Linked DNA regions of Homo sapiens. The protein of the gene in region 2 purifies or fractionates together with the protein of the main gene of each other region. This does not show direct contact. Each region holds a gene or a part of one and is shown on either strand. Other genes may lie near its edges. The genes, in order: HK1, WDR1 and ATP6AP2.

What was found.
Region 1: the proteins of WDR1 (region 2) and HK1 fractionate together in Homo sapiens (co-fractionation; one large-scale study listed by BioGRID). This does not show direct contact.
Region 3: the proteins of WDR1 (region 2) and ATP6AP2 fractionate together in Homo sapiens (co-fractionation; one large-scale study listed by BioGRID). This does not show direct contact.

Annotation. Positions count from the first base shown.
Region 1 is NC_000010.11:69,395,347-69,399,001, reverse strand, and holds part of HK1 (hexokinase-1), read right to left. Parts: intron 408-3,655; coding exon 174-407; intron 1-173. UniProt on the Homo sapiens protein: Catalyzes the phosphorylation of various hexoses, such as D-glucose, D-glucosamine, D-fructose, D-mannose and 2-deoxy-D-glucose, to hexose 6-phosphate (D-glucose 6-phosphate, D-glucosamine 6-phosphate, D-fructose 6-phosphate, D-mannose 6-phosphate and 2-deoxy-D-glucose 6-phosphate, respectively).
Region 2 is NC_000004.12:10,076,206-10,078,840, forward strand, and holds part of WDR1 (WD repeat-containing protein 1), read right to left. Parts: intron 2,488-2,635; exon of another isoform or gene 2,406-2,487; intron 1,722-2,405; coding exon 1,548-1,721; intron 1,244-1,547; coding exon 1,099-1,243; intron 1-1,098.
Region 3 is NC_000023.11:40,601,458-40,605,112, reverse strand, and holds part of ATP6AP2 (renin receptor precursor), read right to left. Parts: intron 1-3,655. UniProt on the Homo sapiens protein: Multifunctional protein which functions as a renin, prorenin cellular receptor and is involved in the assembly of the lysosomal proton-transporting V-type ATPase (V-ATPase) and the acidification of the endo-lysosomal system.

The DNA.
Region 1 (3,655 bases), on a different chromosome or scaffold from region 2:
CCTACAAACTGTTCATTACCTTGTCCTAGACAATCCCCAGCTCCTGAACGCACAGCCTTCAGCCTGGCTGGGCTCCCGCAGGGCATTTCCCCAGCGTAAACCACACCCTGATACCCCCTAACCCAAAGGGATCCCAGCAAGCTCTGCGCATCCCAACTGGAAGGCCCACTCACTGTGGATGAAGCTTGTAGAGTGTCCCGTCCACTCCCACAGTCACATTCAGACGGTCCAGTCCTCTGTTCTCGCGGATCTTATCCACAACCGCAGCCATGCCTGCGCCACACAGCTGTGCGGCCCTCCTGGACACCACCCCGCACACTGTCTTGACGAGGATACTGTCATCGCAGGTGCTATTCAGACCTAGCTGCTGGAGGATAGCCCGGACCTGGAGCAGTGCTAATCGGTCACTGTGGGGGACAAGAGCCAGAGGGCTGGATGAAGCAGGACCCACAAGAGCAGCCTGGAGACCACGTCCAAAGGACGCCCCCCGCCCCCAATCACTGTACTCATCCACAGACAGAGTCAAGGGCAAGTGTTACATGTTAAACTGTGGAGAATTTGGCAAATCTAGCAAAATAAAAATTGGAAAATCTAAACCATTCACTATCTCAACATCTAGGAAAATGCTATTAACATTTTAATATATTTCCTTCCAGTTTATTTTTCCTAGCTGGTATGCTTCTCATGATATGCAAAATGGGATTATCCTTGATATGTGATTTTCTTTCTCTTTCCTGTTTCATGCATTGAGCAATTTCCCACAGCCTTATCTGAGAACAGGATTGGAAACAGCTGCTGCAGTATTCCCTCTAGGGATGCACCATGATTTCTTTAGCCAGCTTGGAGAAATTCAAGTTAATTGCAATTTTCTGCTATTATAAAGAAACATTTTGATAAGGTTTGTTTATAAATCTTTGTGTGCAATTCTGATGTTTTTCCTTAGGATAAATTTCTGGGTCAACGAGCTTTTGCTACACATTGCCAGATGCCTTACAGAAAATTGTATCCATTTACTCTTCAGCAGAGTATTTGGCCACACTTATCCTCACTGGAAAAGAGCATTTTTTTACAACTTTTGACAGTTTTATAAGAAGGCATCACAAGACTGTAGTTCAATTTATATTATTCTCTATTAGTGAGGATGATCTCTTTTTTTTCCATTTGTTTTTTGGCCATATAAACTACTTCTTACGTCTCAAGACTTTTCTCCTGATATATTTGTCTTATTTATATTAAATTGAAAGAGACGATAACTGGGATGGTACAATGAAGACCAGCCAGGCTTCTTGGAGGACTTACCATGTAACATATATTTTACATACATTACCTTACTTACTCCTCAAACAACCAATGAATGTATGATTATTCCCATTTTAAAGATAAGGCAACTGAGGCTGGGAGAAATTGAGTATTGCAAAGCACACAGCCGGTGGAGAAGAGCAGGTGTAGACCAGACCTGCCAAAGCCCACCATGCCCTGCTAGGCGTCTTGTCATACACAGTACAAATGTCTTCCTCAGTTTACCGTTGCCTTTTAAGTTTGATTACTTTTTTTTTTTACTTACAGACACTATGTAGCTATATTTGGCCATTTTTCTTTATGATTTCTTTCTTTGCTATTATGCTTGAAAAGACTTTCCATACCACTTCATACCCATTAGGATGGCTATTCTCAACTCAGAAAATAACAAGTGTTGGCGAGGATGTGGAGAAACTAGAACTTTCACGGGCTGCTGGTGGGAATGTAAAATGTTACAGCCACTGTGGAAAACAACATGGTGGTTCCACAAACAACTGAACAGGGAATTACCATATGATCCCGCAAGTCCACTTGGGGTGCGTACACACACACACACAAACTGAAAGGAGATACTGGTCACCCGTGTTCACAGCAGCATTTGTCACAATATCCAAAAGGTGGAAGCAAGCCAAGTGTCCATGGATGGATGAATGAATAAACAAAATGCAGTGTGTGCATGCAATGGAATATCACTCAGCCTTAAAAATAAGGAAATTATGGCCGGGCGTGGTGGCTCATGCCTGTAATCCCAGCACTCTGGGAGGCCAAGGTGGGCAGATTACCTGAGGTCGGGAGTTTGAGACCACCCTGATCAACATGGGGAAACCCCATCTCTACTAAAAATACAAAATTAGCCGGGCGTGCATGGTGACGCACGCCTGTAATCCCAGCTACTCAGGAGGCTGAGGCAGGAGAATCGCTTGAACCCAGGAGGCAGAGGTTATGGCGAGCCAAGTTTGCACCATTGCACCCCAGCCTGGCCAACAAGAGTGAAACTCCGTCTCAAAAAATAAAAATAAAAAAATAAGGAAATTCTAACACATGCCACAATACGGATGAACCTTAAGACATTATGCTAAGTGAATTAAGCCAGTCACAAAGGACAAATGCTGTATGATTCTATTTATATGAAGTATCCAGAGTTGTCAAATCCATAGAGACAGAGAGTAGAATGGTGGTTGCTGGGGTGGGGGGAGGGAGGAATGTGGAGTTAGTGTTTGCTGCGTACAGAGTTTCAGCTGAGAAGATGAAAAGAGTTCCGGAAATGGATGGTGGTGATAGCTGTGCGACTATGTGAATGTACTTAATGTCACCGAACTGTATACTTAAAAACCATTTTGCCTGGGTAAGAGCAGTGTATAGGCTTGTTAGGTTTTTTTTTGTTTAAGGTTTAATATTTTTTTTCTTTTCTTTCTCTTTTTTTTTTTTTTTTGAGACAGAGTCTGTCTCTGTCGCCCAGGATGGAGTGCAGTGGTGCAACCTCAGCTCATTGCAACCTCCGCCACCGGGCTCAAGCCATCCTCCCACCTCAGCCTCCCAAATAGCTGGGACCACAGGAATGTGCCACCACGCCCGGCTAGTTTTTGCACTTTTTGTAGAAATGGGGTCTTGCCATGTTAACCAGGCTGGTCTCGAACACCTGAACTCAAGTGATTCACCTGCTTTGGCCTCCTAAAGTGTTGAGATTACAGGCATGAGCCACCGTGCCCAGCCTACACAGAGCCTACGTTAGGTTATTATGACCATTCTAAGAAGAACACAGTATTTGCACAATTGCTTTTGTTTTTTCTGACCCTTTTTTCCTCCTTCTCACACAGCGTGCCTTAGAAGACAGCAAAGGCCAGGAAGAAATGTACCCTGGACAGGAGAAAAGTAGAAAGAAGGTGGAACAACTTGCTGAGGGGCATCAGCTCCTGGGTGGCCTGGCACTGAACCCCAGGCTGCCTTTCAGATAAATCCAGGTGGGCCCTATGCACCCCCAATACAAGTATGTGTAGTGCATCTTTACCATCTGAAATGGAATCCATATGGCCCTCTTACACACATAATTTCAAATAAATCAATATAATGCCCCAACATAAAGGATGGATAAAAGGAAAGTAAGTAATTTACTTATTTATTGAGATGCAGTCTCGCTCTGTTGCCAGGCCAGGCTGGAGTGCAGTGGCGCGATCTCAGCTCACTGCAACCTCCACCTCCTGGGTTCAAGTGAGTCTCCTGCCTCAGCCTCCCAAGTAGCTGGGATTACAGGCATATGCCACCACACCCAGCTAATTTTTTGTATTTTTAGTAGAGATCGGGTTTCACCATGTTAGCCAGGATGGTCTCAAATCTCCTGACCTCATGATCCGCCTGC
Region 2 (2,635 bases):
GCACGGCATACATCCTGATGAAGGAAGCCTTGGCCTGCGGGTGGCACAGGTGCCCAGGAGCGCCTTCAACCACCAAGCATGACTTGGCTGTGAGGCCAGGCTTTAGCACTCTGTCCACATCACCAGGCTGGCTCTTTTCCAGATGCAGAACTCAACTATCTGCACGAGAACCCGATGCTGAGGTCACTTCATGTTTGGTGGCCTGTGACCTCACAGTGAAGACACAGACCCCGACCTCCTAATCTCTATCTGACTAGCTCTTGCTGTATTTTTTTCTGGATCCATTTCATTCATGAACTTGTTTGATTCTCACTACCAGACTGGCGATTGCCTTATAAACCAGGACGGACGTTGAAACCTGCTTTGTCTCTCCTCCCTTCCAGACCGGGCTGCCTTCCCTCTTTGCCTGTCCTGCACCTGAAGCCTGCAGCTGGGGAATGGGCTCTGGGGGTGGGCTCAGACATTTTTAAATAGGAAAGGGCCCCATTAATGTTTAACACAAAAGGATGTCTTCAAGGAGAATGGATGAGGGGACTTGACTACACACTAGGAGGAGAGTGGTAGGGGGGCACTCGGGGAGGGGAGGGTTTGGACAACACAGAGCTGCCTTACAATACGTGCATGGCCACGCGGGGACATCACAACCCCCTCAGGGAGAAATGATGACATGCGGGGCTAAATAAAACCTACTGTTACAAATCATTTCACCTGTTTCTTTTTTAAATGTGGCTACCAGGAAATTTCAACGCCACATGAGGCTCACATTATACACTGGACGTGGCTGTCTTAGGGAGGGGGAGACCCTGGTCCCAGGTGGGATTTAAGGGGTGAGTGGGGGAAGTGAAGATGTCAAAAGTGAGGCCTTCACTCAGCTCAGCAGGTGTCCTGTGCATGGGGCCCCCGTGGTCCCTCAGTACGGCCAGCAGCGCAGCTGGTGTTTGCTGGATGGAAGGAGACCCACAACTCTTCCGGGCCACCTGTCTAGAAGCACAGAGGCTACTTAGCCCTGGGGACTGAAGCCAGGGGACAGCCTGTGAGGTGGCCCATGGAGCCCCGAACCATGGGTGGTCCCTGCCAAGGCCTGGGGGCGGAAGTCACCTTGGATCTTGACTCTGGTTTCCGGGTCACTCAGGGTCCAAACATACACCATCATGTCCATGCCACCGGAGGCAAAGTGTTCATTGTCTGGGGACCAGGCCAGGCAGACGATTTTTGCATGGTGTCCATAAAAAACATTGTTCTCCTAGTTGCAGGTTGAAAACAAGAGAGGTGGCAGGTCAGGTTCAGGCCGCAGTTGCCCATATCACCTCGCTTATCCCTCATGGCGACAATAAGGACCGAGGTTTCTCACGCGCTAACTCTATGCCAGCGACCCCTGCAAACCCACTGACTCCTCAGAAGCATGGCACGAGGCACCTGCTACTTGTAGAGGCAAGAAAACTACAGCTCAGACAGGCTCAGCTCAAGGTCACCAAGTCACAGATAACCTCCCACTGCCACCTGCACCGCCCAGCACGGGGACAGAGGAGGAGCCCGCCGCCACTCACCGAGTAGCCGTCAGCAACGCTGAACACTGTGACCACCTTGCTGGCGTCGCACACCGCGAGGAAGGCGCCGTCGTGGGAGTAGGCCACGTCGGTCACGGGGCCCTTGGCCTCTAGGAGCTTGCCCTCATCCTTCAGCGTGGTGCCCAGGATGGAATACAGGCGGACGTTGCCGTCCTACGGCAGGGACAGAGAGGAAGTGAGCCACCCCTGAACACACACACCACACCCATCCTTTGTGAAGGGGGGGTCGAGGGCTTAAGAAACTGTGCCGTTCCCACTGACTGCTGCTCTGCTGGGCCCATGCCAGGAGCTGGGCATGGCTCTTCCCGTGGATGGGCCTGAAACCTACGCAGCTCTATGAAAACAGCTGTTGGTACCTCGGGGCACCGCTGGTCTCATGAGGCCCTCAAGCTGGCTGGTGGAGGAAGCCACTCCATGCCCTGGTCACATCCGGCACCTGAAGGACCTGGCAGCACATAGACCCACCCAGCCCCTAGCATGGAGGGCACTGCCACGCCTGCTGCAGGACTGGGTTATCAGAGGGCTGCCCTCCTGGGCTGGAGAGGGGAAATGAGCTCTTCTACAGAGCACTCAGGACTTGGCCAGGCACACTGTGACCAGACCACACACACAAATTCAAGGGCATGAGAATTATGCCGAGGCAGAACTCAAGGGAAACTGTAAAATGTCTGGTTAGTACCGCACCTTGAAGATGCTGGGAAACTTCTGTCACTCTTCCTTCAACCTGTGAGCCGAGCCCAGCCCCAGGGGATGCCATTCCTTGATTTCCTGACCTGCTACCCTCTTGCGCTCCCCTCCTGCCGCCACTCATGGGGCTGGCTCTGAGGCACAGCTGTGCCCTCCTCGGCACTCCCTCTACCTCACTGTCCACAGTCTTGTGGGCACCCGGGCAGTGAGGTGGGGGAAGTGCCGAGGAGGGGAGGGGAAGGCTCCAGCCCTGGGTGGCAGGAGATGGCGTGGCTGGGCCCCAGAGCAGGTCCCACGCCCCGACTGCCCCCATCCTTCCCCTGACCCCTCGCCTTCCCTGAGACAGCCCCGGTACTCACACAGCTCACACTGTCCCCAAA
Region 3 (3,655 bases), on a different chromosome or scaffold from region 2:
ACTAAAAATACGAAATTAGCCAGGCGTGGCAGGTGCCTGTAATCCCAGCTACTCGGGAGGCTGAGGCAGGAGAACTGCTTGAACCCAGCAGGTGGAGGTTGCAGTGAGCCAAGACTGTGCCATTGCACTCCAGCCTGAGCAACAAGAGCAAAACTCCGTCTCAAAAAAAAAAAAAAAAAAATCATCAACAGAATGGAATTGTGGTATATCCCTACAAGCAGAATATGTAACAGTAAAATGACTAAACTACAGCTACATTTGTCAGCCTGAGTGAATCTTAAAAAGAATACTGAACAAAGAACACAGAAAAATACATGTAGTATGATTCAATTTATATAAAATTCAAATACAGGCAAAACCAAACAACACTGTTTAAGAACAAATACATATGCAGTCAATCTGTAAAGAAAAGCAAGGGATTAACATGATATCCAGGACAGCAGTTACCTCTGGATGAGGGAGGGTAGAGGGAGAAAATAGGGAGCTTCAAAGAAGCAAGCATTCTCTTAAGCTATTGATATGGTTTGGCTCTGTGTCCCCACCCAAATCTCATCTCGATTTGTAATCCCCACGTGTCGAGAGAGGGACCTGGTGGGAGGTGATTGGATCATGGGGGCAGTTTCCCCCATACTGTTCTCATGATACTGAGTTCTCATGAGCTCTGATGGTTTAAAAGTGTGCCACTTTCTCTCTCTTTTGCCACCTTGTGAAGAAGGTGCCTGCCTCCCCTTCCCCTTCCTCCATGATTGTAAGTTTCCTAAGGCCTCCCCAGCCATGTGGAACTGTGAATCAATCAAACCTGTTTCCTTTATAAATTACCCAGTGTCAGGTAGCTCTTTATAGCCATATGAAAACGGAGCTATACAGTGTTATTATTTTTATTATTTAAATAACTAGTATTAAATATGTTATATACTTATGTATGTATGATCCACTTAACACTTTTTTTTAAAATACAGAGCTGTGTAAAAACATTGTTTGGGAAACTGAATTCATTCTGACAAAGGCACTGTTTGGGAAATATCATTCATTCTGGCTAGAGAATTTTAAAAGTAGGAACACAGCAGGAGATGAAGCTAGAAGCAGGGAAGCTACAGAAAATCTGACATGAGCCTCTGGGCAATAAGGAGCCATTGACAAGCTTTAGGCAGAAAGTGAGTGACATGATCAGGTTTGTCTTAAAAAGATAACATTAAAATTAAAAATTAGCTGAGTGTGGTGGCTCAAGCCTATAGAACTGGCTACTCAGGAGGCTCAGACAGGTGGATCACCTGAGCCCAGGAGTTTGAGGCTACAGTGAGCTATGATTGCGCCACTGCACTCCGGCCTGGGACAGGGCGAGACCCTGTCTCAAAAAAAGAAAAGAAAAAAGATAACTTTGATGACAATGTGTAGGATGGATTTGGGAGGAGCCAGCTGGGAAGCAGAGAGACAGATGAGTTCAGACAAGTTAGGAGGCGGCAGTCAAATGAGGTGGGAGAAATGGGGGCAGGGTGCCTGGCAGTGAGGATGAGAACGAAAATGTAACCGAGATCTATTTGTCCCTACAGCCCCAGCACCTGGAATGTTGTGAGTACTCAGTAAATGTTCCTTAAACTCCTGTCTCCTTAAACTAATGGAAGAGAGTGATTTCAAATGTAGGAGAGAATGGGTACACAGGCATGCATATTTACCTGCGGGGAGCTCAGAGCTGAGGCAAACGTTAAAGGATTTCACGCCCATGAAGACCTCTTTGTTTCTTTCCTTTTTTTTTTTTTGATAAACATGTTCTTTTTCCTACCCATTTTAAGTGTACAAGTCAAGGAATTTTAGTGGTTTCATAGTTATCACCACAATCTAATTCTAGAACATTTCTATCACCCTAAAAAGAAATCTCATAGGCCGGGCATGGTAGCTTACACCTGTAATCCCAGCACTTTGGGAGGCTGAGGTGAGCAAATCACTTGAGGCCAGGAGTTCAAGACCAGCCTGGCCAACATGGTAAAACCCCATCTCTACTAAAAGTACAAAAATTAGCCGGGTGTGGTGGTGCATGCCTGTGATTCCAGCTACTCAGGAGGCTGAGGCAGGAGAATCACTTGAATCTGGGAGGTGGAGGCTGCAGTGAGTTGAGATTGTGCCACTGCACTCCAGTCTGGGTGACAGAGTAAGATCCTATCTCCAAAAAATCCAAAAAAAAAAAAAAAAAAAAAAAAAAAAGAATTCTCTGGGAGGCATCCCCACTCTCAACACATGTGCTGACCACCCAGAGCCCAGGTGCCTTTCTGTTTCCCTGTGCTGGTGGGCAAAAATTTCCAGTCTACCCTCTCACTGAGGGCACAGCTCTCTCGGGGTCCCCAGCTTTATCTGGAGTTGTCCATTCCCATCCCCCACACACAAGGCACCAAAGGACTCTTGGTGACCCAGCTGGCAAATATCCTTAGGGCGGCCTGCTTACCACATTCGGTTTTTTTTTTTTTTTTTGAGATGGAGTCTCACTGTGTCACCCAGGCTGGAGTACAGTGGCACAATCTCAGCTCACTGCAACCTCCGCCTCCCGGGTTCAAGCGATTTGTCTGCCTCAGACTCCTAAGTAGCTGGGACTACAGGCGTGCGCCACCACGCCCGGCTGATTTTTTGTGTTTTTAGTAGAGACGGAGTTTCACCATGTTGGCCAGGCTGGTCTCGAACTCCTAACCTTGTGATCCACCCACCTCGGCCTCCCAAAGTGCTGGGATTACAGGTGTGAGCCACCGCACCCGGCCTCCTCTTCTTTATTTACTCTGTAAGAGAATTTCCCTTTCTTGCGAGCTGAACTATGTATTTTTATTTTTGTAATTTTTTTTTTATTTGAGACGGAGTCTTGCTGTGTCTCCCAGGCTAGAGTGCAGTGGTGCAATCTTGGCTCACTGCAACCTCTGCCTCCCGGGTACAAGCAATTCTCCTGCCTCAGCCTTCCAAGTAGCTGGGATTACAGGTGCCCGCTACCACACCAGGCTAATTTTTGTATTTTTAGTAGAGACGGGGTTTCACCATGTTGCCCAGGCTGGTCTAGAACTCCTGGCCTCAGGTGTTCCGCCCGCCTCAACCTCCCAAAGTGCTGGGATTACAGGCGTGAGCCACCACACCCAGCCCAAACTATGTACTTTTTAAAAGATCTTTATTTTTATCTAGCATTTCTAGACGTTTTATGGTGGGAAATCTTGGGTGGTTGTCTAGACTGACATGCTGTCTGAAACAAAGGTCCTTCCATCCCCAATTTAATTTAGAAAGAAACAATCTCAAACCAGTAATCGCTAGACTATCTCAAACAGGCACTGGCTTCGACCTTCCGACTCCAAGTCCCACACTGACTTCAGTAAAACTGAGCAGGGTGAGGGCTGCAAATGGGTCTGAAGCGGAGGTGTATGTAATTGAGTGGATATCTATCTGCTGCAAGTGATACAGCCAGCCCTAAGCAATGTTCTCAGACGTAGGATGTTAGGGAGCATCTACACTACTCTTTCCCATCACCCTCCCTAGGTTCTGCTGCAGCTGTAAGTATATATGTATGTATGTAAATGTGCACGTACATACACATAAACAGATATGTATTTTACCATGGCCAGCAACCATGGTAATGCTTAACCCTGACCCTCTAAATGCTTAAAATCAAAGCAAGATCCATACCCAAAAA